Homo sapiens: one gene and its partners. The protein of the gene in region 1 purifies or fractionates together with the protein of each later gene. This does not show direct contact. Each region holds a gene or a part of one and is shown on either strand. Other genes may lie near its edges. The genes, in order: DKKL1, CELSR2, ITGA8 and FAT1.

Evidence for each region.
Region 2: the proteins of DKKL1 (region 1) and CELSR2 purify together in Homo sapiens (co-immunoprecipitation; 3 studies listed by BioGRID and IntAct, with this or other methods). This does not show direct contact.
Region 3: the proteins of DKKL1 (region 1) and ITGA8 purify together in Homo sapiens (affinity purification with mass spectrometry; 2 studies listed by BioGRID and IntAct, with this or other methods). This does not show direct contact.
Region 4: the proteins of DKKL1 (region 1) and FAT1 purify together in Homo sapiens (co-immunoprecipitation; 3 studies listed by BioGRID and IntAct, with this or other methods). This does not show direct contact.

Annotation. Positions count from the first base shown.
Region 1 is NC_000019.10:49,358,951-49,366,879, reverse strand, and holds the start of DKKL1 (dickkopf-like protein 1 isoform 1 precursor), read right to left. Parts: upstream 3,004-7,929; 5' UTR 2,882-3,003; coding exon 2,872-2,881; intron 2,847-2,871; exon of another isoform or gene 2,817-2,846; coding exon of another isoform or gene 2,762-2,816; intron 2,299-2,761; coding exon 2,126-2,298; intron 1,372-2,125; coding exon 1,231-1,371; intron 1,088-1,230; coding exon 995-1,087; intron 1-994. Other genes in the region: TEAD2 (transcriptional enhancer factor TEF-4), read left to right, coding at 6,805-7,036, 7,381-7,445. UniProt on the Homo sapiens protein: Involved in fertilization by facilitating sperm penetration of the zona pellucida. May promote spermatocyte apoptosis, thereby limiting sperm production. In adults, may reduce testosterone synthesis in Leydig cells.
Region 2 is NC_000001.11:109,252,529-109,259,544, reverse strand, and holds part of CELSR2 (cadherin EGF LAG seven-pass G-type receptor 2 precursor), read right to left. Parts: coding exon 6,156-7,016; intron 1,114-6,155; coding exon 466-1,113; intron 1-465. UniProt on the Homo sapiens protein: Receptor that may have an important role in cell/cell signaling during nervous system formation.
Region 3 is NC_000010.11:15,716,922-15,724,809, reverse strand, and holds the start of ITGA8 (integrin alpha-8 isoform 1 preproprotein), read left to right. Parts: upstream 1-4,887; 5' UTR 4,888-5,038; coding exon 5,039-5,247; intron 5,248-5,910; coding exon 5,911-6,044; intron 6,045-7,888. UniProt on the Homo sapiens protein: Integrin alpha-8/beta-1 functions in the genesis of kidney and probably of other organs by regulating the recruitment of mesenchymal cells into epithelial structures.
Region 4 is NC_000004.12:186,720,856-186,728,850, forward strand, and holds the start of FAT1 (protocadherin Fat 1 isoform 1 precursor), read right to left. Parts: upstream 3,002-7,995; 5' UTR 2,809-3,001; intron 1-2,808.

The DNA of each region.
Region 1 (7,929 bases):
AAAAATTAGCTGGGTGTGGTGGTCCGCGCCTGTAGTTCCAGCTATTCCGGAGGCTGAGGTGGGAGGATCATTTGAGTCTGGGAGTTGGAGGTTGCAGTGAGCTGAGATTGTGCCACTGTACTCCAGCCTGGATAACAGAGCAAGACTCCATTCTCAAAAAAAAAAACCAAAAAAACAAACAAAAAAAACCCCAAAAATCAAAACCACAATAACAACAAAAACATTTTGGAGTTTATAATGGAGAGGTTTACCAACCACTTTGGGATAGATTGAAAAATACTCTGAAGTTTGCAGAGCACTTACTTTGAGACAAAAACACAATTTGGGGTTTATGAGGGTGAAGCTTTCCAAGCACTTAGAATTAAAAACCCTTCTTGGTTTATAAAACATTTTGGTGCTCATAGAAACACTTTGATTGACTATTATGTAGTTAAAAAAAAAAAAGAAAACCACTTTGATACAAAACCCTCTAGGGTCTACTAAACCCTTGCAGATGTATTCTGAGGTCAAAAATCTCATTTCTGACAGTTGGATTGCCCCACTTGAGAGATGGCAAAACTGAGGCTCAGAAGGAGGAAGTTCCACACAGAGGAGTAAGAGGGTCAGTTCCTCTTCTTGTCCTCCTAAACTACAGAAAATGTTAGGGCCTCACCAGGCATGGTGGCTCATGCCTGTAATCCCAGCACTTTGGAAGGCCAAGATGGGCAGATCACTTGAGGTCAGGAGTTCAAGACCAGCCTGACCAACATGGAGAAACCCTGTCTCTACTAAAAAAATACAAAAAATTAGCCGGGCGTGGTGGCAGGTGCCTGTAATCCCAGCTACCAAGGAGCTTGAGGCAGGAGAATTGCCTGAACTTCGGAGGCGGAGGTTGCAGTGAGCCAAGATCGTGCCACTGCACTCCAGCCTGGGTGACAGAGTGAGACTCTTCTTTAAAAAAGAAAAAAAGAAAATGTTTGGGCCTGGACACTTTGACGGCGGGGCACGTCCTAACCTTCAAATCACCCTCGAAGCTCCCCTCCGCTGGTTGAATGGATGCCACCACATTCTCGGAGATCAGCACCTCTCCTGTCTTGTTGTCGGTCATCTGTGAGGATCCGATGAGAGAGTGAGAGCAAACCTGCTTTCCTCCTCCGCCCTCCTTCCCTCCCAACAGATACTGCAGCACGAGGGATGGCGGGATGGAGGGATCCCAAGGGGACTTCAGGAAGGGCTTCCCTGCATAGGCACCTTGTCGATCTGGAGGTGGCTGGAGAGGGTGTTGTTCCCCAGCTGGTGCTCCTGGTTCTCCTCTTTGTGGTAGTTCCCAGGGAGGCCCCGGAAGTCCATGGGGGCAGAGAATAAGCTGTCTATGCCCCGAAGCAGGTTACCCTGGGGCCGGAGGAGGGACTGGTGAGCTGCTGGACCTCACATCTCCTCAGTACAGCCCCTTCTGCAGCCCTGCTAGGATGCTCCCGAGGCCTTGCCCCAAGTCCCTCCCATCCCCTTTACTTTCTGCCCTCTGATACTTAGGGCCTAACCTCCGGCCTCCATCCCCCATGAATTCTCTCTCTATTCTCAGTCCCATTGCCTTACTATCCCTGTTCCTCTTCTGTCCCCATCCCCCTCTCCTCCTGTCTCTTTCCCCAGTCTCTTGTCTCTGTCCCATCTCCTCTCTCTTTGCCTGTTACCTTTCCTCTCTTATTTATGCACGTATATATTTATTTGTTTAGAGACAGGGTCTCCTTGTTCTGTCATCCAGGCTGGAGTGCAGTGGTGCTATCATGGCTTACTGCAGCCTCGACCTCCTGGGCTCAAGGGATCCTTCTGCCTCAGCCTCCCAAGCAGCTGGGATTATAGGCGCATGTACCTGCAACTATTTTTTATATTTTTTTGTACAGATGAGGGTCTCACTATGTTACCCAGGCTGGTCTCCAAGTACTGGGCTCCAATGATCCTTCTGCCTCAGCCTCCCAAAGTGCTGTGATTATAGCCTGGGCCCAGTCCCTTCCCTCTTCCTATCTCTTGGTCTCCCTGTTGCCCTCTCATCCTGTCTGTCCCCCTGCCTGGCCCTGAACCATCTCCCACTCTGTGTCCCTGAACCTCTTCTCAGTACTTCTTCCCCCATCCCCCCGCCATCGCTTACTTTCAGGAAAAGTCGGCTGAAGCCTTGGAGTAGGCTCTGGAGGCCTGTGAGACCCAAGGAGCTCTCTTGGGCGTCAGCATCATGGATAGGAGCTGCAGCGGAGGGGATCACCAGGGTAGAGAGGAGCAGCAGCAGGACCAGCAGATGCCGCCTTGCGGGGGCAGGTGGGGAGGCTGTGGCAAGGGTCGGGGTCAGAGCCCCGCACAGTGGCCACGCCCCCACCCAAGACGCCCCTCTCCAGCACCTTGCCCAGGTCGCCTCCCCAGTTCAGGCAACTCCCACACCGCGCTCATTTCCCCCACTGCTTCTTTCTTCTACTCCCACACCCTCCACCTTGCCAGGCCCCGTCTTCTCCCAGGTCTGGCTCTTCTGGGTTCTGTCTCATATGCTTTTTTTTTTTTTTTTTTGAGACCGAGACTCTGTAGTCCAGGCTGGAGTACAGTGGCACAATCACGGCTCACTGCAGCCTCGACCTCCCCGGGCTCAGGTGATTCTCCCACCTCAGCCCCCCGAAGTAGCTGGGACCACAGGCGCGCGCCTCCACGCCCGGCTAATTTTTGTATTTTTTGTAGAGACAGGGTTTCGACATATTGCCCAGGCTGGTCTCGAACTCCTGATCTCAAGCGATCCGCCCACCTGGGCCTCCCAAAGTGTTGGGATTGCAGGCGTAAGCCACAGCACCCGGCCTCATCCAATGGTCTTTTCCTCACTTTCGCCCACGTTCACCACCAGATCTCAATCCTCACCTTCTCCCATACCCCGCCCCTTCTTCTGGGCTCCGCCTTTATGCTAGACCACAGCCCGGGTCACCGGACTCCCGGATTCCGGCCGCCCACGTACTGTTAAAGCCAAACAGTTATGGTCTCGAGCCCAGGTCTGGTCTAGAGCGTTGGTTGCGCTCCGCGAGCCGTAGCCACGCCCCTATTGTCTGACCACGCTCCAAACTTGCCGGCCTCACCCAGGAGCCCGGGCCTCTACTCCATGACCACGCCCTTGGTGACACAGCCACGCCCCATCCTTCGTTCACCACACCCCTTAAGCCAGAGCCGTGAGTTCATTCCCTGGCCACGCCCACACAGTCAGACCACGCCCACGTCAGTTGACCTCAGTCCTGGAGACCAAGTCCTGGAAGTCCTGGCGGTGTTCTCTGATTGCGGCCCTCGTTTCGGAGTCCCGCCCAATCGCAATGGCCACGCCCCTTGGCTGAAAGCCACGCCCCTGCACTGGGCCACGCCCCTGCACTGGACCACGCCCCTGCGTCCCAGATCTTGCCCTCATCACCCCAAGTTCCAGTCCTAGGCTCCTCCTACTGGAGACACCGGAGTACAAGCATCCCTTTTAGCTCTCACTCTAATTGTGTATCTGTTTCGGAACCTTTTCTCCGTGTCCCTTCTGGTTTTCCCGCTCCCGCTCCACTAAAAAGTCCCGTTGTCTCCGGAAACCCTAAATCCAGTCTTATATTTCATCTTCCAAGGAACCCAGAATCAGACTTCCTTTTCCCTGAGGACCTCAGGTCCGGACTCCCGCCCCCTCTAGTCCCGTAATTTTGAACACGCAGCCTTTCACCCTTAAGGGACCGGGCCCTAAGCCATCTTCCCTCAGGCACCAAAGCTCTCTTCCCCGTCCCGGGACAGCCGCCAGCCGTCTCCAGTCCACTAGCGCCTGTAGATGAGGAATCTGCACCTACGTGGGCCTCCAATAAACTCCCGGTGGTCCTGCCCACGACTCTTAACTGTGGTGAGGTCACAAGGAAACCAGGTCGTCATAGGAATCAGTCAAAACCCATCCCCAGACCCCAATCCTCAAAAAAAAAAAAAAACAAAAAAAACAAAAAACAAAAAAACCAAAAACCAAACAGAAAAAAAGAAAAAAAACCTCAGGGCTTAACAGTAAAGACTCTTTGTATTCGTATCACTTCCGCACCCCCAATACACAAACACGAGGGTAGCCGGGATTCCAGGCGCCTAGCCCCGTCCCCTCTCAGACCTAGGAGCCCATATCTCTCTCCAGCCGCTTCCTCTCCCAGACCCAGGAGTCCCAGCCCCCAGACCCAGGAGTCCCAGCCCCCAGCCTCTCCTCCCTCAGATCAGGGGTTTCTGGCTCCTATCAGCCTTTTCCCTCCGACTTGGAGTCCGAACCCCCAATCCCCCTCCTTTCCCAAGCACCCAAATCCTGAGTTCCTACCAGCCCCGAGATAGACTAATCTCTCCCAAAGCAAAAATCCTTCCCCAAACTGTCACCGTCGGATCCCCCTTCCCGCTGTCCGCCGGCCGGGCCCGCCCCCCCCTCCGGTCCCTCCCACTTTTCCCAAACAAAGCTCCCGGCAACTTTCTCCCTCGCAGCGCCCCGCCCGCCCGCGGCTCCCCAGCCCCAGGCCGGGAGGTAGGAAGGCGCCGGCGGGAGTCGGGGATCCTGCTTTGGGGTGTGTGAGTTGGGGTGGGGAGTTGCTTCTTAGGAGGTGAGGCGTGCGTTTGCGGGACCGTCTCTGAATGGTTCGCAGCCCTCTTTTTGCCCGGGGGCCCGAATTTGCTCCCGTGACCGAGCCTCAGTGAGGAGTGGGAACTCTGGCCGGAGTTAGGGTGCCTGCGGCTGGGTCTGAGTTTGGGCGTGCGCGCAGGAGCGGGTGCGGGCCAAGGGCGCTGGCGGGGTGTGGGGCGTGCGTCTGCGGCGGTGTCACTTTGGAGTGAGAAGGACCCCTTGTGTAATCTGGGGGGCATTTGGTCCTTCTTACGGAGAAGGGAGGGCCTCTGGGGTGGCCGAGGGGAGGTTACGGGGCTTTCTGGATCTTAAGTCTTGCCTCTTTGGAGGTTTAGGGTCTGGGGCGGGAAATTAGGGGGACCTTTCTTACCCGGCTCCACCGTCCCTTTGTCTGGCCACATGGGGAAGGGCTGGGCTGGGATTTTGGCCTACGGGGGTCCTGAACGCCGCAGCGCCACTGGGCTTGGCTGGGGTCTTTGTCTGCTATGGTCGGCGGGAGGAGGGGAATAGGGGCCTGGACTCTGGGGTCCTGGGAAAGCTGTGGAGGACATGGAGCCTCCGGGGAGGCGGGATCTGACTGTATTGGAAAAAGTTTTCCCTGTTCCCGGCCTCCGGAAAGTCACTGGGAACTTGAGTTGGATCAGAGCCCACGGCGCACGGGGGAGGGGAGGGGCGGGGCCCGGTGCCGGAGGGGAGTCGCCCTGGCCGGCAAGCCCCTCCCCTGATGGGGGTTGTGGGAAGCTGGGGGAGGGGACGCCTGGGCCCTTTGTTCTGGCTCTTCTGATGGCAGGGCGCCCCTGTCCCCCAGCTTGTGGTTCTGTGGGTCTCTCCTGGTCTCGGCCTCAGCTGCTGCCCTGAGTCTCTGTCCCTGCCCTTTCTAGGTCTCCGTCTCCCTTTCTCTGGGTCTCTGTTGCCCTCTCTCTGAGCCTCTGTCCCCCTCTCTCTGAGTCTGTGTCCCCCTCTCTCTGGGTCTCTGGTCCCCTCTCTCTCTGGGTCTCTGTCCCTCTCTCTCTGGGTCTCTGTCCCCCTCTCTCTGGGTCTCTGTCACCCTCTCTCTCTGGGTCTCTGTCTCCCTCTCTGGGCCTCTGGACCCCTCTCTCTGGTCCCTGTCCCCCCCCCCCGGTCTCTGTCCCCCTCTTTCTGGTCTCTGTCTCCCCCTCTCCCTGGGTCTCTGTCTCCCTCTCTTTTTGGGTCTCTGTCCCTCTCTCTGGGTCTCTGTCCCCCTCTCTGGTCTCTGTCCCCCCCTCCCTCTGGTCTCTGTCCCCCCCTCCCTCTGGTCTCTGTCCCCCTCTCTCTCTGGGTCTCTGTCCCCTCCGTCACTGGTCTCTGTCCCCCCCTTCACTGGGTCTCTGTCCCCTTCTCTCTCTGGTCTCTGTCCCCCTCTGTCTCTGGGTCTCTATCCCCACCTCACTGGTCTCTGTCCCCCTCTCTCTCTGGTCTCTGTCCCCTTCTCTCTCTGGGTCTCTGTCCCCCCCCCTTGCTGGTCTCTGTCCCCATCCCCTCTCTGGGTCTCTGTCCCCCTCCCTCTCTGGGTCTCTGTCCCCCTCTCTCTAGACCTCCCCTCAGTCTTGCTTGGCCCCTCTTCTTTTCTGGCAGCTGCTGCTCACATCTTACCACCTGTTCTTGGGGTGGGACAGGGGAAGTTTCACCCACACCTTCCTTCCCCACCACTAACTTTTGCCTCCTGTCTTCTTTAAAACCCGTAATTCATACCCGAACCTTTAGCCTTCATGGCCCTCGGCATTACTCTAGGGTAATCATTGTGACTTCATCACAATTGAGTTCCTCTGGAAACTCTGAGAACACTCCCATCCTCAGCTTTCCAAGAAATCCAGCTCCTTCTCCTCCCTCAGACTCAGGAGTCCAGACCCCAGCCCCTTCTCCCTCACACCCAGGAGTCCAGGCCTCCAGCCCCCGCTCCCTCAGACCCAGGAGTCCAGGCCCCAGATCCTCCTCCCTCAGTCCTAGGAGTCCGGGCCCCAGCCCCTCCTCCCTCAGACTCAGGAGTTCAGGCCCCAGATCCTCCTCCCTCAGACCCAGGAATACCCCCCAGCTCCTCTTCCCTCAGACCCAGGAGTCCAGGTCCCCAGCCCCTCCTCCCTCAGACCCAGTGGTCCAGAGTCCCAGCCCTCTCAGCTTCAAGTCCCTTGAGGGTGGGGTTTGGGGGAAGCTTGCTGAGTTCTGTGTTCCTCCAGGCCCAGATGGGGGAACCCCGGGCTGGGGCCGCCCTGGACGATGGCAGCGGCTGGACGGGCAGTGAGGAAGGCAGTGAGGAGGGTACCGGCGGCAGTGAGGGGGCTGGGGGTGACGGGGGCCCGGATGCAGAGGGGGTGTGGAGCCCAGACATTGAGCAGAGCTTCCAGGAGGCCCTGGCCATCTATCCACCCTGCGGCCGCCGGAAAATAATTTTGTCTGATGAAGGCAAGATGTATGGTGAGTCTACTTCTGTCTTTTGCCCTGGCCCCCACTGATGAATAATGACAGTAACCAAGGTTTATGGAGCACTCTGAAGTAGGAGCTAGCATCACCATTTGCACAGATGAGGAAACTGAGGCACAGCTAGGTTAAGTGATTTGCTTATGGTCGCACAGAGCCAGTGCGTGATGGAGCTGGGATTTGAACCCAAGCAGTCTGGCTTCCACGTAGCTGAGGGGACCGGCAGCCCACTTGCTGCAGACCTTTGGGGACCCATGCTGCTTTCTTCTTCCCTGGTGTCCATGCTGTGGGGAAGTTCTGTTGAAAGTCTAACTAACTCTGTTCCGTCTTTGAATCTTCAGGTCGGAATGAACTGATCGCCCGCTACATCAAGCTGAGAACGGGGAAGACCCGAACTCGAAAACAGGTCTCGGAATGGACTTGTGGGCTTCTGTCTGGGATGGGCCGGTCTTCTTAGGGTCATCCTCGCATGGGCAGGTTCAGGTTCAAGGAAGAAGCTGCTTCCTGTGCGTTCATCTGTCTTCTCGGCATGTGTGTTAGTCCGTTTGTATTGCTATAAAGAATTACCCGAGGCTGGGTTATTTATGTATTTGTTTATTTTTTGAAATGGAGTCTAGCTCTGTTGCCCAGGCCGGAGTGCAGTGGCGCGATCTTGGCTCACTGCAACCTCTGCCTCCCGGGTTCAAGCAATTCTCCTGTCTCAGCCTCCCGAGTAGCAGGGATTACAGACATGCACTACCATGCCTGGGTAATTTTGTATTTTTAGTAGAGATGGGGTTTCACCATGTTGTCCAGGCTGGTCTCGAACTCCTGACCTCAGGTGATCCACTCACCTCAGCCCCCCAAAGTGCTGGGATTGCTGGGATTACAGGCGTGAGCTACTGTGCCTG
Region 2 (7,016 bases), on another chromosome or scaffold:
CCAATCTCAGCGTTCCCTTAAATCAAGGCCAACACCTTCCATGCCACCAGCTGTTTCCAAGTATCAAATTAATTACATTAATCCTCACAACCAACTTATGACCTAAGTACGGTCATTATCTCCATTTCAAATAACCGAGGGCCAGAAAGGTTAAGTAACTTGTTCAAGGTCACACAGCTACTAGCGGCAAAGCTGATACACGAACACAGGCCGACTGGCTCTGGAGCCAGCTCTGCCCACAATGGCACTGCCTGTGTGTCCTGTGCACAGCAGGGAGAAGCACTCCTTGCACTGCCTTCCTCAGTGGGGTGCTGTCAGGGAGCAGGCCGGATTTATGACCTCTCAGTGTAGCTGCACCTCACTCGGGAAGAGAATGAGGCAGCCGCCAGCATTTGTCCTGATTTGTGCCTGCACCACACAGTCAGCCTTCCAGGGCTGGCCCATGAGTCCCCTCCCTTGGCTCACCCGTGTAGCCATCACGACAGAGGCAGGTGTAGCCGCCCTCGCGGCTGCGGCAGCGCCCGTGGGGGCCACAGGGCCGCGAGTAGCAGAGGTCCACCTCGGTCTCGCAGTAGTCACCCGTGAAGCCGGGCGGGCAGCGGCAGCGCAGCCCTCCGACGGGGTGGATGGGCCGGAAGAGCACGGAGGAGGAGGCGATGAAGGGCGCGGAGGAGTCGAAGCGCAGCACCGACACGCAGCGCATGTAGTTCTCGCAGGGCTCCCGCAGGCAGATGTTGTCGTCGAAGGGCAGCACGCGCTGTGCCGAGATGGCCGTCAGCAGGCTGCGGTTGAGGTATAGGCGCTCCTGCAGGTCCTCAGAGGGCAGGAAGGGCGGCCCGCCCCCGGGCCCTGGCGGCTGGCCCACCGACAGGCTCACGTTGAGGATGTGGCCCCCGGGGGCGTCGGTGTCCCGCTGTACGTTGAAGACCACCACGTGGTCCGGTGGCGTGGCCAGCGTGGCGGCCACCGCCTGGATGAAGAGGCCTAGCAGTGGTGACAGGAAGCGCTCGGGTGACATGTCCTCCAGGCGCAGCGTGATGCTGTGGGTGAGCATCTCATCGGTGATGATGGTCACACGCAGCGCGCACTGGGCGGTCACGCTGTGTACGCCGTCTGTGGAGAGGGACACAGTCAGGACCCAGCCTGGGGCTGCAATTCAGCCTGCATATTCCTGCACCACCCACCAAGAAAGGCTCTCCTTTCCAACTGGCATAAGGGTGCTGAGCCAGGTATGTCACGTGTGGGCCAATCACTCCTTCAGGGCTCAGGGGATGAGATTTGCAGTTCTCTTTGCATCCTTTCCCAAAACCTTCTGTCGCTGATGCACGGCACACCTCTTAATGTTTGTGCACCTTTCCCTGCCCAAGCCACCGCTCCTGCTCCCTTCCCCCAGAGTCTGTGCTGCCTGCGCGGGAACCCTATGTTGTCTTTTTCATACTTTTCTACAGGGCCCAGAGCATCCTGAGACCCACAAAAATCATCCCCCTGCCCCCTCAGCCTCTACACCTCAACACCACGATAATCGCAACCATGGCTGTGTTCCCCACTCCCCCACAGCAGCAGGGAGTTGGCGGGGGTGGGGGGGAGTGGGTAAACTGGGTCAGTGGGCCACCTAGTCCCCCTCCCACTGAGCCCCATGGCTGCTTGGGCGCGCAGACCTGCTATCCCCATGGCAACATCCAACACAAAGCATTCTTCCCGCCCAACTCTCTGGGCTGCTGTGGGTAGCCTGGGGGGCCCCACCCCAGGAAATCCAGCTGAGCCACGTTAACCAGTGACATCATCACCCACTGCCCCATGCTGGAGACAGGGTGAGTCGGGGTGGGGGACCGGAAGGCAGAGATAGAAGGGCCTGGGCAGCTCTCCACTCTGAGACCCCAGAGCCCCACTGAGTCAGTCTCTTCTCTGGTCCTAGGGCCTCTAGCTACTCATCACCCACTTGGCTCAACCATTACACCCAAATGCCTGCTATGCCCCCAGGCAACACACTCACTTATAAACAGCTAAGCACTAAAACACACTTGCTGGTGTCTCATTCCACCCACACACCCTAAGCCCAGAAATACCATACACACCTGAATGCACATACACATGGGAATGAATTTTATTTAGCTAAAAAATGAAAGCTGGGGCCTGGAGAAGGAGGAAATGGCTTTACAGGGCAAGAAGGGATAGTCTTTTTTTTTTTTTTTTTAAGAGACAGACTCTCTGTCGCCTACACTGGAGAGCAGTGGCACGATCATAGCTCACTGTAGCCTCGAACTCCTGGGCTCAAGCGATCCTCCCACCTCAACCTCCCAAATAGCTGAGACCACAGGTGCTCACAACTATGCCTGGCTAATTTTTGTTTGTGTGTAGAGATGGGGTCTTGCTGTGTTGTCCAGGCTGGTCTCAAATTCCTGGCCTCAAGTGATCCTCCATCTCAGCCTTCTAGAGCACTGGGATTACAGGCATGAGCTACTGGCATATTCATATTTGTATTTATTACAATGCCTTACACATAGTAGGTGTTCAGAAAACACTGAGATGTGGATGACAATCTATTCAGTCTCCACAAAGAATAAACGGACTTTAAAACATAGCAGGGGGCCGGGCGCAGTGGCTCACGCCTGTAGTCCCAGAACTTTGGGAGGCTGAGGCGGGTGGATCACGAGGTCAGGAGTTCGAGATCAGACTGACCAACATGGTGAAACCCCGTCTCTACTAAAAATACAAAAATTAGTTGGGCGTGGTGGTGGGTGCCTGTAATCTCAGCTACTCAGGAGGTCCCAGATACTCAGGAGGCTGAGGCAGGAGAATTGCTTGAACCCAGGAGGCAGAGGTTGCAGTGAGCCGAGATCGCGCCATTGTACTCCAGCCTGGGTGACAGAGTGAGACTCTGTCCCAAACAAACAAACAAAACCACATAGCAGGGGGAGCCCAACTAGATATAAAAAGCAAATGCTTACCCTAGCAGTAACGGGGCAGGAGCCCATGTTTCTGGGGTGGGGTGGGAGTAGGCAAGGGACATGGGAACAAATTCTGCATCTGTGTTGTACCTACTTGCGGTGGCTGACTGTACCAGCGGTGGCTCAGCTGAAGCCGGGAAGGCTGAAAGCAGACCCCCATCTCAGCCATGTCCTCAGCCGACTGCCCACCTACCCTCCAGCCTCATCACTTGCTTATTCTCACTAGCTCTCACCAGCAAGCCTGCTTGTCATCACCCACTTCTGTTCCTCCTGCTCTCGTCTCAAAGCTGCTGCACAGGCTGTTCCTTCCCACCCAGACACCAGCCCACAGTCCTCTGAGTCTTCTAACCTGCCCTAGCTCACCTGCTCCAGGAAGCCTGCCCAGATTTATGTCATCAGGCTCTACTTTCCTCTCCGTTTCAGACTTCCCCGCACCAGGATGCTCAGCTGGCACAGAGCTCTTGTATACCTGGTATATCTGCCTAATGATTCCTTGACGGGATATTCCCTCCAGGCAGAAAGCAGCCCAAGACTCCACACACAGTGCCCATAACTGATTAAGAGAGGAGAGGGGGCAACCAAGGCCATGGAGCGGGAGAAACTTTGCCACCCCTCAGCCCTGGGAACAAACACTTCTCCCTGTGTCCCCCACCGCCATCGTCTTAGGCCCCGCCTGGGCCCCTCTCCCAGCATGTCTCTGTTGCTTCCCATCTGGTCCACCATCTGTGGCCACCTGCCCCCTCTGCTGTTGTCCCCCATCCCCAACAGTCAACCCACTGCTCTCTCCTTTCTATATCACCCTCCCCTGCCTTGACCTAGGTCACCCCTCAGGTGCAAAGGCAGGATGGGAACAGGGGTGGGGAGTACGTTGCCTGAGCTGTCTTCCTGGACAGAAAAGGAACAGCTGGGATGGCCTCTGACCCCAGGAAATGCCACCTGTGTCCCAAGCTTAGCCAGGCACACCTGGAAAAGTGCCAGGTCCCGGTCAGCCTCCCAGCCTCTCTTCCCCTGGCAGATGTGCCAGCGGAGACTGGAGGCCAAGAGGGCTCTGCTGTTCTGGGAGCTGCCCAGACCATGGACAGGAGCTGCTGCGTGTCTGAGCAGAGGAAGAAAGAGGCGAGGAGAATTCAGCCTCCAGGGGAGCCATCGGCCCAGGCTGGGGCAGCTGCAGCCATAGGGAAGAGAGTGGAGGCACAAACACGGAGACCAAACAGGGGAAGACAAAGCCTCAGGAGAGGAGCCAGCAATGGGCAAGTGGGAGAGCCGGAGAGCCGCAGGAGCAGGGAGAGGGCACCGGAGAGAGGCAGTGCTGCAGGGCTCCGCATGGGCAGGGGCGGGAAAGAAAGAAGAGACAAAGAACAAGAGGAGGAAAACAAAGGGGCAGTGGGAGTCAGCTCCCCCTCACCCCGGCCTCCCTGAACTTTGGGGTTGCCGTGGTGACTGCCTCCAAGGGTCAGGGCCGAAGGGAGAGGGTGGGGCCAGAGCTGCCGGGCCAGGAGGAGCCGTCCTGGATGTTGCCCCGAGCCTTCTCTAGACTAGGGAACCAAGGTCTAGGGCTCTGCCCTGGTGGGAGACCGAAGGCTTAATGGGGGCGCTTCTCTGCCAGTGCCTGGCCACGCTCACCAAAGGCAGGCTGGGTGTGGAGGACCAGAGGGAGAGGCCCTCCTTCCCACCTCCTTCCCACTTGTCTCAAGTGCCCAGGCACAGTTGAGGACACAGGAGCTCCAGCCTCCCTCTTCCGCCTCCTGGAGGGGAAACTGAAGTCTCAGGAGGCTCAGAACCTCAGCCACAGTCCCTGAAAAGCTCCTGCTTCCTGGTTCCTGTGGCTACTTTGAAGGGTGGGGCAGGGAGGCATCTGTCCAGCAAGGACCCTGAGTGAGGCCACGCCCTGACTCTGGCATACCCCTCCTTCCCCTTCAGGCCACACTCCCTGGGGTGGGAGTAGGGGCCTGCCAGCCTCTTCTTTTCCTCCCTTCCCTGATGGATTTGAAGGCTGCCTAGAGGGGATGTGACCTGATCCACCCCTGGGGTGCAGCTAACAGCATCCCCTCATGAGGGTCTCAGTTGTTCCCAGGCTTGGGGAAGGCACTCAGCAACTTGGGTGTGGTCTTCTCCCTGCTGCTACCTCTGGCTCCCCACAGCTGATAAAAAAAGACAGAATACTGTCACCAACCCCCTCCAACTCTCCTCCCCCAGCCCTGCTGTCCAGGGAGTCTGTAGGCTGAGTGCTTGGCCAAGCAGCAGGAATGCCCCAGCCTGGGTTCCGGCCAGGCTCCCACGCCCTGGGACTCTGTTCTCTCCTCAGATAAGGTGCCTTGGGGTCTCTGCCCTCAAAGCTCACCAGTCCACTGGCCTGTCCTGGTCCCTACACTCCATTCCTGGAGCTTGGGCTGGTCACAGCTAGCAGGAAAGGAAGGCCTGGCACCCTAAGAACAGCCCATGAGGTGGCAAGGGGGGCCCACGAGGCCTCAGCCTGCCCCCCAGCTTCATTGCAGCCCCTCCTCCAAGCCAGACCCGAACCACGGACTCTGAAAGTGGGGTCTGTTTGGACAGACAATGAGCTCTGGCCTCACTTCCTGTGGGAGCTCTGAAGGGGGAGCCAGGCCAGGCTCTTTCTGCCTGGAGGGAAAAGAATGCGCTAGACAAAGTCCCTGTCAGCCGATTCTGCAGCTCAGCCAGGAGGCAAAAGGGGCCAGAAGAGGACTACAGGGTCCTGACCCCTGGGTGGCGGCAGCCCTGTGCTCCCGTGGTCCCCAGCTCTGCCAAAGGCTGTGTGAGACTGCAGGAATATCTTGATGGGGGTGAAGGGGCCCTGGCCTCGCCTCCTCTCCTGCGCCACAGTCCTCTCTGCCCTTCCCCCAGCTCTCCTGGCCCCCCAGGCTTCCACGCGCCTTTTTTCACAATTCTTGGCAGCCATAGCCGGGGCAGCCTCACAACACTTCCCCGACCACGTCACAGGCTGGTAGACAGTGGGGGCAGCCAACCGAAGCAGCCCAGCCCAGCCCAGCAGAAGGTGGGGCCTGCACCAGCCGCCAGGGTTCCTGGGGCTTCTTCCCAAGCTGGCTCTTGCCCCTCCTGCTCTGTGCCAGGCACTGGGCAGGGAGGTGGATCTGTAGCTGCTTCCTGGATCGCACCCTACCTCCAGTGGCTGCCCAGACCATCCCCGCGAGCTACCCCCACCCCAGCGCCACCTGGGCCCTTCCTTACCTGACACCAGCACGCTCATGATGGCCTCCAGAGGCCGGTTGTTGTCCAGTGCGCGGCTTAGCTTCAGCTCACCCGTGGAGGCATTGAGCAGGACCAGGCTGAGTTCATTTCCCCGCTCAAAGCTGTAAGTCAGACTATCTGAGATATCAGGGTCATGGGCAGGTACTCGGCCAATGGCACCCCCAGGGAAGCTGCTTGAGCGATTGGTGACATAGTTGTTGAAAAGGATCTCAAAGTTGCCCAGCACTGGTGGGTTGTCATTGCGGTCAAGGAGGCGGACGTGGACTGTAGCCCGGCTCACCAGAGGAGCTGACGTGGCCTGGATGACCAGGACGTACTCAGGCCGGTCCTCGTAGTCTAAGTCTACCAGGGCTGTCAGCTCCCCGGAGAAGATGTCCAGCTGAAAGACCTCAGGGATGTTGCCCTCCACAATCTGGTACATAATCTGGGCATTGGTGCCTTCATCGGGGTCAGTGGCTGTGACCCGGGCCACGGCTAGCCCAATGGGGCTGTTCTCTTCCACAAACACATCAAACTCATCCTGCTCAAAGACAGGGGGATTGTCATTCACATCCAACACAGTGACTGTCACTTCCATAGGTGTGCGGGCTGGGGGCATCCCCTTGTCCACTGCATATGCCCGCAAGACATACTGGGCCACGTTCTCTCGATCCAGCCTCCGTAGCGTTCGCACGATGCCTGACGTGGACTCAACAATAAAGTCACCGTCTCCATCGTCGCCTCCTTGGAAGGTGTAGAAGACCCTGCCATTAAGTCCAGAATCACGATCAGTGGCTGAGATCTGCAGGACGCTAGTGAAGGGTGGCACATCCTCATAGACACTGCCCTGGTAGGAGTCTC
Region 3 (7,888 bases), on another chromosome or scaffold:
ACTATGGGTGAAATTCACCCTCCAGGGACCGAATAGAAAATTTGCAGACATAAGCTGATGTCAGCAGAGACACCTGACACATTTAAAAGTCTTTTCCCCTCAGTAAGTTTAACCATCCAGTTTCTACTAATCAGTTGTTTCTAATATTGCAGGAAAGCTGAGTTCAGTTGGGCAGAAAAAAAATCTGACATAACCTCAATTATCCATTTTCTAAGTAGAGACTGAAAAGCTACCTTCCATTCCTGGTGCATTGATTTTTAAAGCTGATGGAGCCTCCGAGCACACATTGCATTCACACTGGCTTATTCTGTAAATAGTTTAAAATATTTGAAATGTGGTTCTATTAATGAAATAATTATATTGACACTTTCACACCTCTTGATTTTAAGGCATGATCATATCACATAAAGAAATAGATTGAAACACAATCAGAAATAATAATTGGTCATTAAGTTAGACATGTTTTTGATTGAAAAGTATGCACTAACTGGTTAAATGGTCTGGCATTTCTATTTTTAAGTACTTCGTACATGGCTACAACTCAGACATCATTTTTTTCCCCTGTGGTACTCTTTACTTGTTTATTTTTGGAAAGTTTGGGCCAAATCTGTTCCATCTTTGACCTTTGGGTTCTTTTCTTTTCTTTTTAGGGAAAGAACTATGTATACCTTTCCCAGTACGAAGCATACACATATGCTCACATGGATGATAAACAACTCGCAGACTTGCTTTTCTGACAAATAAATCAGTGCTGGTAGATCTTTAAAATGTCAAACTTCTCATTCAGCATGAGACCTGTCACTGTCCATGTGTTTTTTTGACGAGTCCCCAGATCTTACCAATTGGCATGGTTCCCGTATGTCAGAATGATGAAATGTACAAGACACCTATTCAGACTTATCCCTTCTCTACAATTATTGCAATTGGGTATTTTTTTTTTCCTGGCTTCTTGGAAGGTTTACTACTCTCCCAGGCTTTTGGCCTCCCAGGGAGGTCAAAGAGCTTGGAGTTAGTTTGCGTTCCCTCCAAAACACCAAGGTGCAGCCAAACCTTTTTCCACGACCTCTCGGAAAAGTACACAGCAGCTTTATGCCATCTCTCAAGGACTAATCATAGGCATGCCCAGAGGGCAGCCCAGAATAGCTTACTACCTCTAGAAAGGTGGCTTCTCATTATTATCATGGCTTTAAAACCTGATTCCTTATAGATCTAGTAGCATGAGGAACTGGTTTTGGCATTTGATAGGGTTAAAATAGTACGACTTACTTGCCCTGTAAACATGCATATTATTTTACCTCCCCAAACTTTAATGTCCTCATCTGTAAAGCAGAAAGTGACCATATTAAGAATATAGACTTATGTAAGTCAACAGCAAGTATGTTTTAGAACACAGAAATAAGAATATACCTAATTATGTGTCAGTAAACAGATTTTTTTTCCCTTATCTACTCTATTTTTGTTGTTGTTGTTTTGAGACAGAGTCTCACTCTGTCACCCAGGCTCGAGTGCACTGGCATGATCTCGGCTCGCTGCAACCTCCGTCTTCCAGATTCAAGCAATTCTCCTGTCTCAGCCTCCTGAGTAGCTGGAATTATAGGCATGTGCCACCACACCCAGATAATTTTTGTATTTTTAGTAGAGAGGGGATTTCACTATGTTGGCCAGGCCGGTCCCAAACTCCTGGCCTCAAGATGATCCACCAGCCTCTGCCTCCCAGAGTGCTGGGATTACAGGCATGAGCCACCATGCCCAGCCTCTCACTCTATTTTTGAACAAAAAGACTAAAAAGTTTAAGAAATATGCCAAGGAAGTAAGCAAGTGGGTACAACATGGGATACCCTGGTGATGTGCTTCTCTATGCAAATCAAAGCATTGTGTAATATATAGCTAGTTCCACCTAGTAAGTCAGCACACAGGTCAGGTGCATGTCTAGGATCATTCTATCACCTTCTGCCTATTTAGATGGTTCTCATCCATCTCAGGCTAGCTTGCAATAGGACAGATTTCCAAATTTCAGCATGCCAGTGTCAGGAAATGATTGAGTTGAGGTTATTTTTCTAACCTCAGTGTCCAACACAGTTGTCAGCATTCCTATTTGTATGCTGCCCATGAATTCCTCATTGAAAATTACTGAAGGGAACACCACTTTGATGAACAATAGTAACTTGATCAGAGTAGCAGACTCTGCGTTCAAAGCAAATGAACTTTTAAAATGAGAAGCAAGTCTTCTACCATCTACTCCTAAGTCTTTACCTGGGAAAGGAATACTCAGGAAATTATCCAGACGTGACAATTTGCCAGGGAAATTTTTGATAGCTTATTTATTTGTATTATTTTTACAGGGGCATGACAAGTAAAGATATAACATTCAGATCAGTCTACTGAGTGGGTTCTGATGTAAGGGAGACAAGAAGTCCAGCTTTTCAGTAAGTTCAGAGATTTTTTTCTCTGGATAGACCCTCAAATCAATGGACAGACTGACCACTCCCGAAACTGCCATCTACATTGCTAATCGCAGGCTAGTAACTCAAATCAGTGAGCCCAGCACCTAACTCACCTTCTACTTCCCCAATCTGCTGTCCTAGCCCACTGCTACCGTTCGCTATTCTTCTTTTCTAGGTTAATACCTTGAGACACCTTGAATTTTTTTTGAGATGGAGTCTCGCTCTGTTGCCCAGACTGGAGTGCAGTGGTGCAGTCTCGGCTGACTGCAATCTCGGCTGACTGCAAGCTCCGCTTCCTGGGTTCAAGGGATTCTCCTCCCTCAGCCTCCTGAGTACCTGAGTAGCTGGGATTACAGGCACATGCAACCACACCCAGCTTTTTTTTTTTTTTTTTTTTTTTTTTTTTAGTAGAGACGGAGTTTCACCATGTTGGTCAGGCTGGTCTCAACTCCTGACCCTGTGATTCTCCCGCCTCGGGCTCCCAAAGTGCTGGGATTACAGGCGTGAGCCACTGTGCCCAGCCTGTCCCTTTTCTTTAGCATTTGTGGCCCTCCCCTCCCTTCTGTTAACCAGCTTGAGGTCCTCGCCTCCCAGTGCATCTAGGCAACACCTACTTTGCTTTCCCTTCCTTCCAACAACTACCCCCCACTCCCCACCCCTAAACTTTTGGAGCCCCAGAAGGTATGTCCCGTCTCTGCTCTAGAACTGGCTCCCTTTGCCTCAATAAATGTTATTGTTATTAAGATCCTCTTCCTGAAGATCCAGTCAACCCTATTTCCCACCACTTCCTAACCCACCCCTTTTATTCCAATCCCATGCACAACCATTTAATCTCTGTCTTTTCTAAGTATTAATACCTTCCCTCAACTTCTCCCCCCACAGTGCCCAAATGTAAGCCCCGTATTCAAAATCCTACGTAAATGTACATCTGCCACCAAATCCTCTTACATGCTTCAGAAAAAACTTAGCTCTTCTGTCTCTAAACTTCATATCTGTTTAACCTCGGCTCCTTCCGGTTTCATGCTGACCTGTTTTGTTTAATGTTAACGAATGACCATATGTTATGTAAAGGGATCTATACTCCTTTCTCTTCTCTGTCCTCCCCTACTCAAGCCTCACGTCCTCTCCGACACAGGAGACATGGGAAGAGATTGACAACACCCACGGATCAGAACCGAAATCTGAACTCCTGTAGACTGTGAACTACACCTTCTACCCCCGCAGAAAGTAAACTGTAAATTCCAACATTCTTAACTGCGCCAAACTTCATCACAATTACACAGGATGGAGATTTACTACTAAGTCATTTAATATGCCCAAGATGCCTTTAAGAAAGATTTAAATAAAATCTCAAGGGCTGGGCAAGGCGGCTTACCCTGAAATCCCAGCACTGTGGGAGGCTTAGGTGGGAGGATCGCTTGAGTCCAGGAGTTCAAGACCATGTTGAACAACATGGTGAGACCCCCATCTCCTTAAAAAAAAAAAAAAAAAAAAAAAGAAGAAGAAGAAGAAGGAGAAAGAAAGAGAAACAAAGAAAGAAAAGAAATTTTAAAAGTCAACTCGAGGTGGCAGGACGGCTTGAGGCCAGGAGATCGAGACCAGCCTAGGCCACATGAGCAGACTCAGTGTCAACAAAAAAAAATTAGAAAATTAACCAGGTGTGATGTGTCATCTGCAGTACCAGCTAATCAGGAGGCTGAGGCAGGAGGATCGCTCGAGCCCAGGAGTTTGAGATTTCATTGATCTATGATAGCACCATTGCACTCCAGCTTGGGCGAGAGAGAGACCCTATCTCTAAAAAGAAAAAAAAAATAAATAAAACAAAGCAAACCAACCAAACAAACAAAAACAAAAAATTCACACATGCACACACACAGGCGCGCGCGCACACACACACACACACACAGACACCCAACAACAAAAACAAAAAAAAACCCTCGAGGCTTTCTTGTATATGAGTTAGCTCTGCCAGGAGGTGGGGTGGACTTAGGGGAGGAGAGGGTTGTTGCATTTCAACTTTAACTCTCATCACAGACGTGCAAAGCCGTGAACGCTGAGGTCAGGCTGCAGAGGTGATGAAGAGATAATTGCTTTGCCCCTCCTGGTGGTGGGGTTGGTTTTCACATTCTCCATCCAAGCTGCGCCTTTGACACAACTGGAGCAAGCTCTCGCTCCACCTGGGGCATTGCTTCTAAAGCAATAAATAGCTTGAGGTGACAGAGACGAAACTGATTGTCCTTGAGATGGGACTGCAATAGAAATCCGGGCAGCCCGAAGAGGCACCCAGCGCTCCAGCCACCAGCTGGGCCGCCCGGGAGTCCCTGGCTCTAGACCAGCCGCGAGGAGGCGCCGCGAGAGAGCTGGTCCCTGCCCGCGGCCGGAGGAGGGCTAGAGCCCCTGGGCCAGCCCCCCGAGCCGGCTGGGCGGGCGGGCGGGTGGGAGCAGACGCCGGGCACTGTCACCACGGGTGCGCCGAGCGCACCGACCCGGGACACGGGCAGCTGGGGACCGCCAGATTCCACCAGCCCCCCTTGCCCCGCAGGGGTCCTCGGCTCGCGCTCCTGGGTAGCAGCCACCCACCGGGGCGGAGGGAGATGTCGCCCGGGGCCAGCCGCGGTCCCCGGGGAAGCCAGGCGCCGCTGATCGCGCCCCTCTGCTGCGCCGCGGCCGCGCTGGGGATGTTGCTGTGGTCCCCCGCCTGTCAGGCGTTCAACCTGGACGTGGAAAAGCTCACAGTGTACAGCGGCCCCAAGGGCAGCTACTTCGGCTACGCCGTGGACTTCCACATACCCGACGCCCGCACGTAAGTCGCCCGACCCGGGGAGGTGCGCGCGGGGACGAAGGCGCTCCCGGGTCAGGTCCCAGCGGCTCTGCCGCGGAGTCCCCCCGCAGCCTGGGATCCCCGTCCTGCCGCCTGCCCGGGGTCCCGTCCCTCTCCCCGCCACCAGCCCCTTCTCTCCCCTGCCATGCTAGATGTGCCTTGTGAATTTTGAGCTAGAGACATGCCACTTGCATAGAACACGCAAGTCCTGGGTGTTCCAGGTACCAAGACGCACGCATCCTACAAAGGAGAGAACAGGACCCAGAAGACCCAAGCCAGTTAAAACCGCCACCACAGCGAGGTCTGTTTATGCAGAGTCTGTAACCATTGCGTCTGGGCGCAAGAGCTGTCGGCTACCAGCAGCTGGGCTCTGTCCTTGGCTTCCTCCTACCCCACCCCCTTCTCTCATCTCACTGTACCCACAGAGCTCCACCTAGAGAAGCAGGACCGTTTGCATTCTTGCAAACCAGGTTGCGGACCCCCGTTTCCAAGAGGAAATCAAGTTTGACAGTCGGTCCTCATCATAAATACGTTCATGCCCTCCACGCCTGCCCCAGTGTCCCCGGGCAGGAGGTTACAGAGACTGCATTGCATGCGCACGGTTTTGTGGCGCCCAAAGAGTGACTTTCTCCAACTCTTTTGCAGAGCGAGTGTCTTGGTGGGGGCGCCCAAAGCCAACACCAGCCAGCCCGATATCGTGGAAGGGGGAGCCGTCTATTACTGTCCTTGGCCCGCGGAGGGGTCTGCGCAGTGCAGGCAGATACCGTTTGACACCACCAGTAAGTGAGATTTGTCCTTCTAAGCTGTGGGCCTGGGTTTGGAAGAACCAGGGCCATCCCAGAGGCGACTTCCCGCTGTCTTGGTGTGCTGCTCGTTTAGCTTGTCTGATATGTCCGTATTGTGGGCTATGTGGGTCTCTAGAGAAATCAGTTTTTTCAACTCTCAGTTAACTGAAGGAAGACGTTTAGTGAACCCTAGAGAAAGGACACTATTTTGACCCTGAGTGTTCGGATGCATCCTGGCAACTCCTGTTTCTTTACCTTTCTGAGATGAGCATTTTCAGGGTGAGTGGATGTTTTGGAGAAATACAAAAACTATGTCCTAACTTTGACTGTGGAGAGAATTTGGTTGCTTCTCAAGGACAGATCTGGAAAAAGAGAGATCCTTAGCGTTTCCAGTGCCCAAGCTCGGGAGGCAGGACTTAGCTGCTGCAGACCCAGACATCACTCCGCGTTGCTGTTTAATTCTTTACAGAAAGAAAGAATTTTCTTTCAAAGTATTAGACATTGAATGCAAACTAGTGCAGGCAGAGTGTGGATGGATTACATTCATTTCCAAAATCCCTAGACAGATGTTTCTTATTTAATTAAAGGGAAAATACATTTTAAACAATTCAGTCTGGTTACGTTTCCTCTGGTGTTTTCTCTTTAGAGCCTGAGAAAATAATTTAAATGCGATGCTTTCAAAAACATTAACACCGAATGCTTTAATTTTTACCACCAAAACTTTATGAATTCAAAAGGTATATATTATCAGAAAGCAAATATCTCTTTCCAGAAAAATGCGAATATGTCAGCTTGAACAATGGTCCTTGATAAATAATCGTTTAAAATACCTTGTGTACCACACAACTATTTTATGACATACTTGATTTCTTTGATTTTTAATTGTTTGATTAGTGCGTATATGGAATTTATGCGGAATATTTTCACAGAATTTCGATGAAATTGGCTGGATGATGTTTACTTGTTACTATAATTTGTATCTTTTATGTTAAAGGAGAAAACAATTTCAGTTTCATAAATATGAAAATATTTCAAAGCAAAACAGACTATACAAGCATTACCTTGAATTATGACCAAATTAGGAAAGTATTTTATAAAAGCATTGGAAAATTATATTTTTATCATGCCTGTCTATATATGGTCACAATAGCTTATCATTTTATTAAATATTCTGTTATTTTATACCAGTTTTTATAAGCTTTTACTTTTAAATTTGAGTATTAGCAACCAGGAAGATTAAACCTTTTGATGTTAATTTGTGACAGAAATCTTTTAATTAGTTATTTTATCAAGACTTGAGACACTTTCTAGCTACTGCTCTCTAGTTTAAGAATAAGCTTCGTAAACCAAAAGAATTAAACATTTAAACACAAAATTAATGCCATTTTAATAATTCATATCCGAATCATTTGTATTTTTAAAAGTATTTTAAAGCAGGCCAAATAAAGACATGAATCATTAACATTATTTGAATTTACATTAAGGAAAGTATATTTTGAGACATGGTTGATGTGTTTTCACCAAGAAGCAATTTATGGTCGTGGAAAAGAATTTAATAATCTTCTTGTATAGTCTCATAACATCAAATCAGGATCTGATTAGTATTTTTTTCTTTTGATAAAGGAAGAATCAATGTCTGCCCTGATAAGTTACAACTGACTTACTTTGTAAGTACTCATCCCAATAGATGTCATAGGCCAACAGATTAAAAACCAGAGAATCCAGATGTCAACTATGAATTCAAAAAATAACTGACCACTCCTAACTGAAAATTTTCAATATTAAATTACAATAGGTAGGCCAGGCGTGGTGGCTTATGCCTGTAATTCCAGCACTTT
Region 4 (7,995 bases), on another chromosome or scaffold:
GAGAGGGATAACATAGGAAAATAAAACATCCATCCTTCTCAAATTAACAGAAAATCCAGGCACAACCACGAGGCTGGTAACAACACTGCAGGTGGCTGCTCTGTAGAGGACTCATTTCCAATAGCTCAGAAAGAGGTCACCACCCACCTTACGCTGCCTCAAAATTGGCTATAGATAATGCCAGATCAGTGTCTGTGTTGCAGATTATCACAAAGCTCTAACCTTAATATTCTATGAAGGATACAGATTAAATCATGACTAATATTTCCTAAGCAGTGTATAGAAGCCTTTATTATTTTTACTTTATAGACTTATCTTCACATACATAATGAACCCTTGGAATTAAGCAAGAATTCAGGCAATGTATTTAAATCTGGGACTTACAGTAAAAGATGACTTAAAAAACTTAAAAGAGTGAAATATGCAGATTCCTCATCAGAATATATTTTTGAAATGAAAAGTTCCCCTCAGGTATGAGAAAATGGCAACTTCCTGATCTTAACTGATGTATATCACTCATTTCAAAAACTCTTCTCCAGTGTCTAAGGATAAATAAGCACTTGCAAACTGAACAATTAAGTGAGACCAAAAGATAGAGTTTGGCTTCAACTTCTACATAATTTGGTCAAAAGAACAATTATCTAGCGCAAATCCCACTCATAAAGATTAAACAGCACATCCAGCCTTACGGCTCCCTGCTATTAAATCAGGTCCTTTAGGCTACAAATTATGCCACTGAGACAGAATCTAATGCAATAATAATGTACTAATTTGATTTGGCTGATTGATTCTACGTAAAATCAGCCAAACTTGGGTGGAAAGCAAGCGGGTAAAGTGTTAAAACATAATCTCTAAGATCCTATCCACCTCTAACATTCAAAGAAACGACTGCTTCAAAGGGACCTCAAAGCAAAGTCTAAAGGCAATGGAAAGGTAGAGGATGATCAGGGGAATGAAAACAGAATTAGTTTGTGCATAATTTTTAAAGATTTTTCTTCTCTTCTTTTTCTTTTCTTTTTTTTCCCCAGGCTGAATTGCAATGGCACGATCTCGGCTTACCACAACCTCCGCCTCCCGGGTTGAAGCGATTCTCCTGCCTCAGCCTCCCAAGTAGCTGGGATTACAGGCATGCACCACCACACTCCGCTAATTTTGTATTTTTAGTAGAGACGGGGTTTCTCCATGTTGGTCAGGTTGGTCTCGGACCCCCGACCTCCGGTGATCCGCCCGCCTCGACCTCCCATAGGGCTGGGTTTACAGGCGTGAGGCACTACGCCCGGCCATAATTTTTAAACATTTTTCTGTTGGCACCTGTCCGGACCATGGATTTAAATGATCTACTAACATGATGAGAACCCAACGGGGATACTTCAAAAGAGACAAATGAATATACAGGTGGCCCGAAATGATTTTATAAAGTCCTCTAACAACCACACTTCTTTCCAGAGTGCCAAAGAATTTGGCTCATTTAAGGTGTTCATTTTTCAAAAAATGGTTATACAAATGCAAACTTCATTCAAATCAAACCTTACCTTGAGCTTGTTAAATGCCATGTTTAGCATCACTCAAGGCTTATACCAATTGTTGTTTTAAAAAATTACATAGTGCTTTAAGTATTTTTACATCTTAAATACAAAGGAATAATTCTAACTGTGGAATCAGAGCTGTCTTCCTAAGACAAAAAGACAAAGACAAATATCACAATTAACTATTAACTGGAGAAACACCTTTTCAAACGTCCCTGTAACAACTGGATGTGTTGGACAGCATAACCAAACTCATTAAGAATAGTGTGAAAAACATCACCATTACCTAGTTCTCACACACAGATACCTTCTTAAACTATCGAAACCTGTATCTGAATATACGAAGCATTAAGAATCTGCTTTTGAAAAGGAAATGAATATCTGAAGGTCATTTTCTTTTCAATCTTTTCTCATACTAATAATCACTGTTAATATCCACTTTTAAAAAATCGCCTCTATCAGGCACCCGGGAATTGCTTAACAAAAGCCACTTAATGAAACCACAGTTCAGACAAAAAAAAAAACTTAACTGCATAGAAAATATTTATGAGTTTACTTTCCTAACTCATACAATTGCGTCCTTGTTTCCAAAGCCTTGCAATTCACATCAGCGGGAACAAAAAAATCTAACACACAGCAGAAAGCTGGCTCTCTAAAAGAAAGCATTTTTTTTTAAAGGCAATGAAGGACCAAAAACTCTTTCTTTTAAAAAGATCTTAGAAGTTCCTCCTCCAGAGAAGACAGAAAACACTGACAAACCGCACATTGTGCAGATGTTCAGCCCCGAAATGCAGCCTCGCAGCCCTTCACTCCGCAGTCCACCGGTTGCATCTGCACCTCCGGGCAGCGCTCCTGCAGGGCGCAAACACCCAGAGACCCAGGGACCCGGCAGCCCCGCGCAGGCCTCCCGCGTGCACCGCTCAGCGAGCGGGTCTTTCGCAGACGGCGGGATGCCCCAGGAGACCGCGAGGCCGGCGCAGCCCGGCGAGCTCCCGGAGGGAAGGCGGCGTGTCAGAAAGGATCGGACCCCAGCAATGGCCCCGGATCGGTCCCGCGCGGTCGCCTCCTTTTCCCGCTCCGCCGCCGGGACCCCCCTAGCCAGTGCTGAATTTCCCAACTGGGAAGGACCGAGTCACTCCACCCTCCGGGAAGTCGCGCGCTCATCCGTTTTCGGCAGCGCCGGAGCCCGAGCCGGGGACCGGGCGGACACCCACAGAGTCCGCACCGCAGCGCGCTGCACGCTCTCGCCCCCGCCCGCCGGCCCGCGCCCCAGCGAACTAACCGCAAAGTTGGCCCGAAGTGGCGACGGCGCTCTCGTGGAGCTCACCCGCCGTCTCAGCGCGCCCCCGAGCAGGGACCGGGCCTGCCGGGGCCCTCGCCGGGCTCGCGCGTCCGCATGGTACCTGCCGCACGAGCCGCTCCCGCGCCCTCTCCCCGCGCCCGGCCGCCCAGCTCGGCGCCGGCGCCTCACGCTCCCCGAGCGCAGGAGATCCCTCCGCCCCGGCCCCGCCCGCCGGCGCCGGCGCTCATTTCTCGGGCGCGGAAACTCGAGCCCACTTTCCCCGGCTGCCGGCTCTGGGACCGCGGGCTCGGCCACGCAGTCCCGCCCGGACCCAAAGAGCCCCAGTCCCTGCGAACACCAGGTCCGTGCTGGGAGACGAGAAGGCGCCCAGCGGGGTCTAGCGCGGCTCCGAGGGGCAGGGCGAGGCTTGTGATGCCGAGGTTAGTTACGGCCAGCCACAGGCGCTGTGCAAGGAATTGGGGAAAGCTCCCTGCCAAGAAAGGGAAACGTTAGCTTAGCTAAAAAAAAAAAAAAAAAAAAAAGGCTGGGGCCTAATGAGAAAGCTTCCCAGAGGCATCCCTTTAGCTTTTCCATAGCCTTCTGGGAGCCCCTGAATCTGCATTTGAATGGCGCGGCTCTGGGTCCGCGAAGGTTTGGTGGGCTGAAGTCGTCCTTCAGGTCTCCAAAGGAATGCAGCTAGGTCGGAATCTACTTCCTCCTTCAATCCCCAGAAAATGGAAACGCTTCCCCCGCGACCTTTTTCTGCCGAGTTAGACCCCAGGCCCTCCCCGCCGCGGGCGCCTGGCCTCCCCCGCTGACACCCCGGACGCCCAGGCCTGTGGGACAAAAGGCAGTCGCGGCGTCCCGCGGGCTTCCTAGCCCGGGAGTCGGCCCCAGGGGCCCCAAAGCGTGACCCCAGGCCGACAACTGCAAGTTCCTAGGCAGAGGGGAAGCCCCAGCGCCGAGAAGCCCGCTCCGAGAACTCCCCGCGCCGGGCGCCCAGCCTGAGCGTCCCGGGCGCGGAGCCCATCCCCGGTGCGGGCAGGGCTCCAGCCGCAGGCTCGGCGCAGGGCGGACTCGGCCGAAGCCCGGAGGGCCGGAGGCGCTGGGACGCAGCCCGGACAAGAGGGCGGACTTGATCTCGGAAAGTTTGTGGGACTCAGGCATTTTAACACTGGGAAGACAAAGAGATCCGATTTCCCTGGGACTGGTGAGGGGAGCTTGGCGGGGAGGGGAACGGCAGGGCAGTCAAGTGTGAAAGAGAATTTCCTGGGTTCAAAGTTAACGCAGTCACCTTATAAGCCATCTTAGAGGTGACCGGAAAAAATAATAATAATAAAGGTGTCTAGCAGGTTGTGGCTGGGAAGGAAAAATAATGCCTGCAAGATGAGTGTGCCGATTCGTAGCCCTATATTCCCTGCCCACCAGTTGGAATACACATAGATTCACACATCCAGCAAATGCAAACTCCATCATCCAAAGACGTGTTTGTCCCGGCCATAATTGCTCCAAGTGCTTACAGGTCAATTTCATACATGGAACACCTCGAAAGTGGGTGACCTGATCTCCAAGCCCAACCGGCTTGTGCCGCTTGCCGAATTGTAAATCTCAGCAAAACCCAAACACACCGGAACTCCAGCCGTTTCCTGGGAGCGAGGAAGCGGGAGTAATGCTAAAAGGGGAAAAGAAGAACAGTAAAAAAAGTACAAAGATACCATTCCCTGACGTAAAATCACGGGATTTTTTTTAAATGGCACAAGAGAATTCCTGGAGAAGATTACCATTAATTAATAAGTAATAACGCTTCCTAGGGCTTACTAGATGTTTTACATCTGTCTGGGAATCCCGATTTTCCAGGCTCCCTGAGAAATCTATCTGCCTGGAAGAAGTTGCACTTCGTCGCCACAGGAGCCGCCGAGAGCCAGGGATGGAGATTTCAGACTTAGGACTCTGCCACGATTCTACTGATCCTTAAGCGCCAACAGAACGAAATGGACATGCCTATTAGCTACCACAAATCGAATTATTTTATATGAGAGAGAGAAATGTGGTTCAAGTTCCACATTTGTCCTTTAAATAATCGACCCTCCCTAACCCTGTCCCCAAAGGCTCGTGGAAATTAGGGAGGGGGTTGGGGAGACGGTTCCAGAAACAAAACGCTTTCCTCCAGCACGGCCTCTACATCCAGTCCACCCAAGCTGATTTTTGTAACTCATATAAAGAATGGGCCCGGGTGGGTGGTCAGTGAAGACTGGGGTGAGCAAGCGCCCACGTCGCCGAGCGCCGGGGAGGTCCAGGTTCGCCTCCGCACAGAACCCTGCAAGGAGCGCGCCTCGCCAGGTGCCCGGACTAGAGGGCGCTGCGCCCCTGCAAATCTCGCGGCCCCGATGCGCCCTCCCTAGGCACCATTGCTATAATAAGTTACATTCAAAATAATGCACAAACAGCATCGCCTCTCAAGTTCTTTTTAACAGTGCTCTATATGTATTTTATGAACTCCCAAAGCTATGCATACGAATCTTTCATCGCCGATCCGCACAAAGCCAGAGGGATGCGCAGCTCCTGGAGCCGAGAACCCGTAGGGCGCACACGCTTCCCCGCACTCGCTTAGAGCCACACACCCCACGTAATTTCATTAACGTTTAAACTTAAATGCCAAAAGGCATGCACGATTTGAACAAAGAACTCACCAGTCTAGCCGAGTCCTCGGCCCTGGGCTCTAAAGTCCTCGGCAGCTCCGTGATCCCCTCGCGGTGTAGATATGTGTTAAGAGCCGGGTTTGAAGTACCAACTTTGCCTCCCCGGGATCTTCAGCATGTCCCTAACCAGAGTGCCAACGTCCGTGCCGCCGGGACCCAGGCGGCCGCATCTCCGGAGGCTTCCGACCAGGGCAAACTTAAGCACCAAACGCAGGCGAAAAGAGAGTGCGCGGGGCCGGAACGAGGGCCCGGGAGCAGCCAAGTTTGTCAGGACGTGCCCAGGCAGCCAGCCGCCGAGTTGAGGAGTTGCGGCCGCCGGCTGCGGCGACTCGCTGCCTCTTTCCCCACTCCCTCCCCCTTGGAGGCGGTGGGGGAGGGGAGGTGACGTCAGCGCCCCGCCTCGCCCCCCGCCCCGGGCGCGGACGGGATTCTCCGGCTGGGCGCGCCACCCCGACAGTGGCAGCAGCGGCCGTGGAGGCTGCGGGGGTCCCGGCCTCTGCGGTCTCTCTGGCCGGCCGCAGCTGTGGCGCGGGTGAAACGCCCGCCCTCCTCCTTCGGCTGCGTCTCCCGGGCGCCGGCGAGCGCGGGCGTTCCTCGCACTCAGCGCCTGGAGCCGCCTGGAGCCCCGCTGCGCGCACTTCCCCGGCTCGCGGAGCCCCTCCGGCGGCGTTTCCCACGCCGCGGACTGCAGGTGATGCTCTTCCTCTTCTGCAGCCGAAATTCGTCGCGATGTGTCGCCTGCCAGATTTTTGCTGGGCGGAAGCATGAACAGTCTCTGCAGACTGGCCTGGACGACTTGTACTTTGTGGCCCTCCAACTTCTGGATGTGAATTTTTTTTCACGACTTATTATTATGCTCTTCGTGGTCTTTGTGTTGAAAATCACGGAGCTGTATTTTTATTTTCAAATTCTTTCCCAATGCTCCTCTTGTCTTGACCGTACTCTGAAGCTTATAAGGTTCTGAGAGGAGGGGGCGAAGGGATAGGGGAGGAGCCAGTTCCTAATGTGTCTTACAAGTCATCCCTAGTGATAGGGGCTAATACGCAAATCACTGTCTCCTCCTCGAAATAATATCCATTTAGATAAATGCAAACACTGTTGAGGTTTAATTTATAAAGAATGCGTCGTCTTTATGTAAGTGTCCAGCCTCCAGGAAAATATCTGCTGTGGAATATATTTTTAATGCCACTAAAGTACCAAAATACCTCCCCGAACAGCGTGAAATTCCGAGGGAGCCATTTCTGTGAGTTGACATTGTCCCCAGAAGATTGTCATTAACATTCAAGATCCTTGCAAAAGGGGGCTGGGGGCGGTTCTATCATATTTGCATCCGTTGGTATAAATATGTTGATCAGTTTAGCTGGTCGTTCTTTTACAAAGGTCAAGAGCAAAATTCTGAGCACAGAGGAAACTGGGCAGGGAGCTAAACAGTAAGGAGAGAACAAGATTAGGTGATTGGAATGTTGTGTGTGTTTAGCCTTGAAGTCATAACTTGTCTAAATGTCAGTGTCCTCATCTGTGATATGGGACTAATATCTGCTTCATGTGGTAAAAATGTATTCATGTGTTTATCCATTCAAAAAAAAAACATACTGCACTCTACTTGCCAGGGAGATAACAGTTATTCATGCAGGCAAAGCATTTTTACTGAGCATCATATGAAGTGTCTAGCACGCACATAGTAGGTACTTAAACAATATTAGTTTTCCTGCCCTCCCCCGCTCCCTTCCCTCACTTCTTGGCAGTGTCTCAGTTTTTAATCCATAAAATCAGCATCATCACCACTGATTGGAGATTCTGCCAGGCAGGTCTCCAGACTCAAGTCAGGTCTCCTGGGCTCAAGAGATCCTCCTGCCCAAGCCTCTCCCTCAAGGTACATTTTGATTTGGAAGGGAGGAGAGGATCCAGGGAGCTAGGACACGGAGGGATATAGGAAGGGATTTTAGAGCTCCTGCAGACCCCGAGGGCAGCTAGAGGGTGCCAGATTCCTAAGGAGGGAGGAGGCTGGCTTGAGAGGCCAGTCTGTCAGTGCCCAGCGGACTTCTCCTGCTTCCCTGTTTCAACTACACAGGCTCTCTCCTTTTGTGTCAATAGTTGAAATTAGAAATTGACCACATATTGCAAGTCCTCAAAATGATTCACAATAAATTCACCCCGAGAGGCTTCTCGCTGAAGTCCATTTGGTTTGCTATACTCACTTTAAAGTTGTAATAAATAAACCAAATTACTTAAAAAAGATAAAAATCACAAATGACAGGAACTTATGAATAACAATTGATGATATTAGTCAAAATAGCTGGTTTTCAAAGTGAGATGGGCAGAAAACTTTTAACAGAACCTCTAGAGCTGTGCTAATGTAGTGGGCAGCCACTTGCCCCCTGTGGCTACTTCCAGTTAAACTAAATTAAAAGGCACTTCCTGAGTCTCACCAGCTGCATTCCGAGTTTCAGTGACCATGTGTGGCTAGTGACAATTGTATTGATCGCAG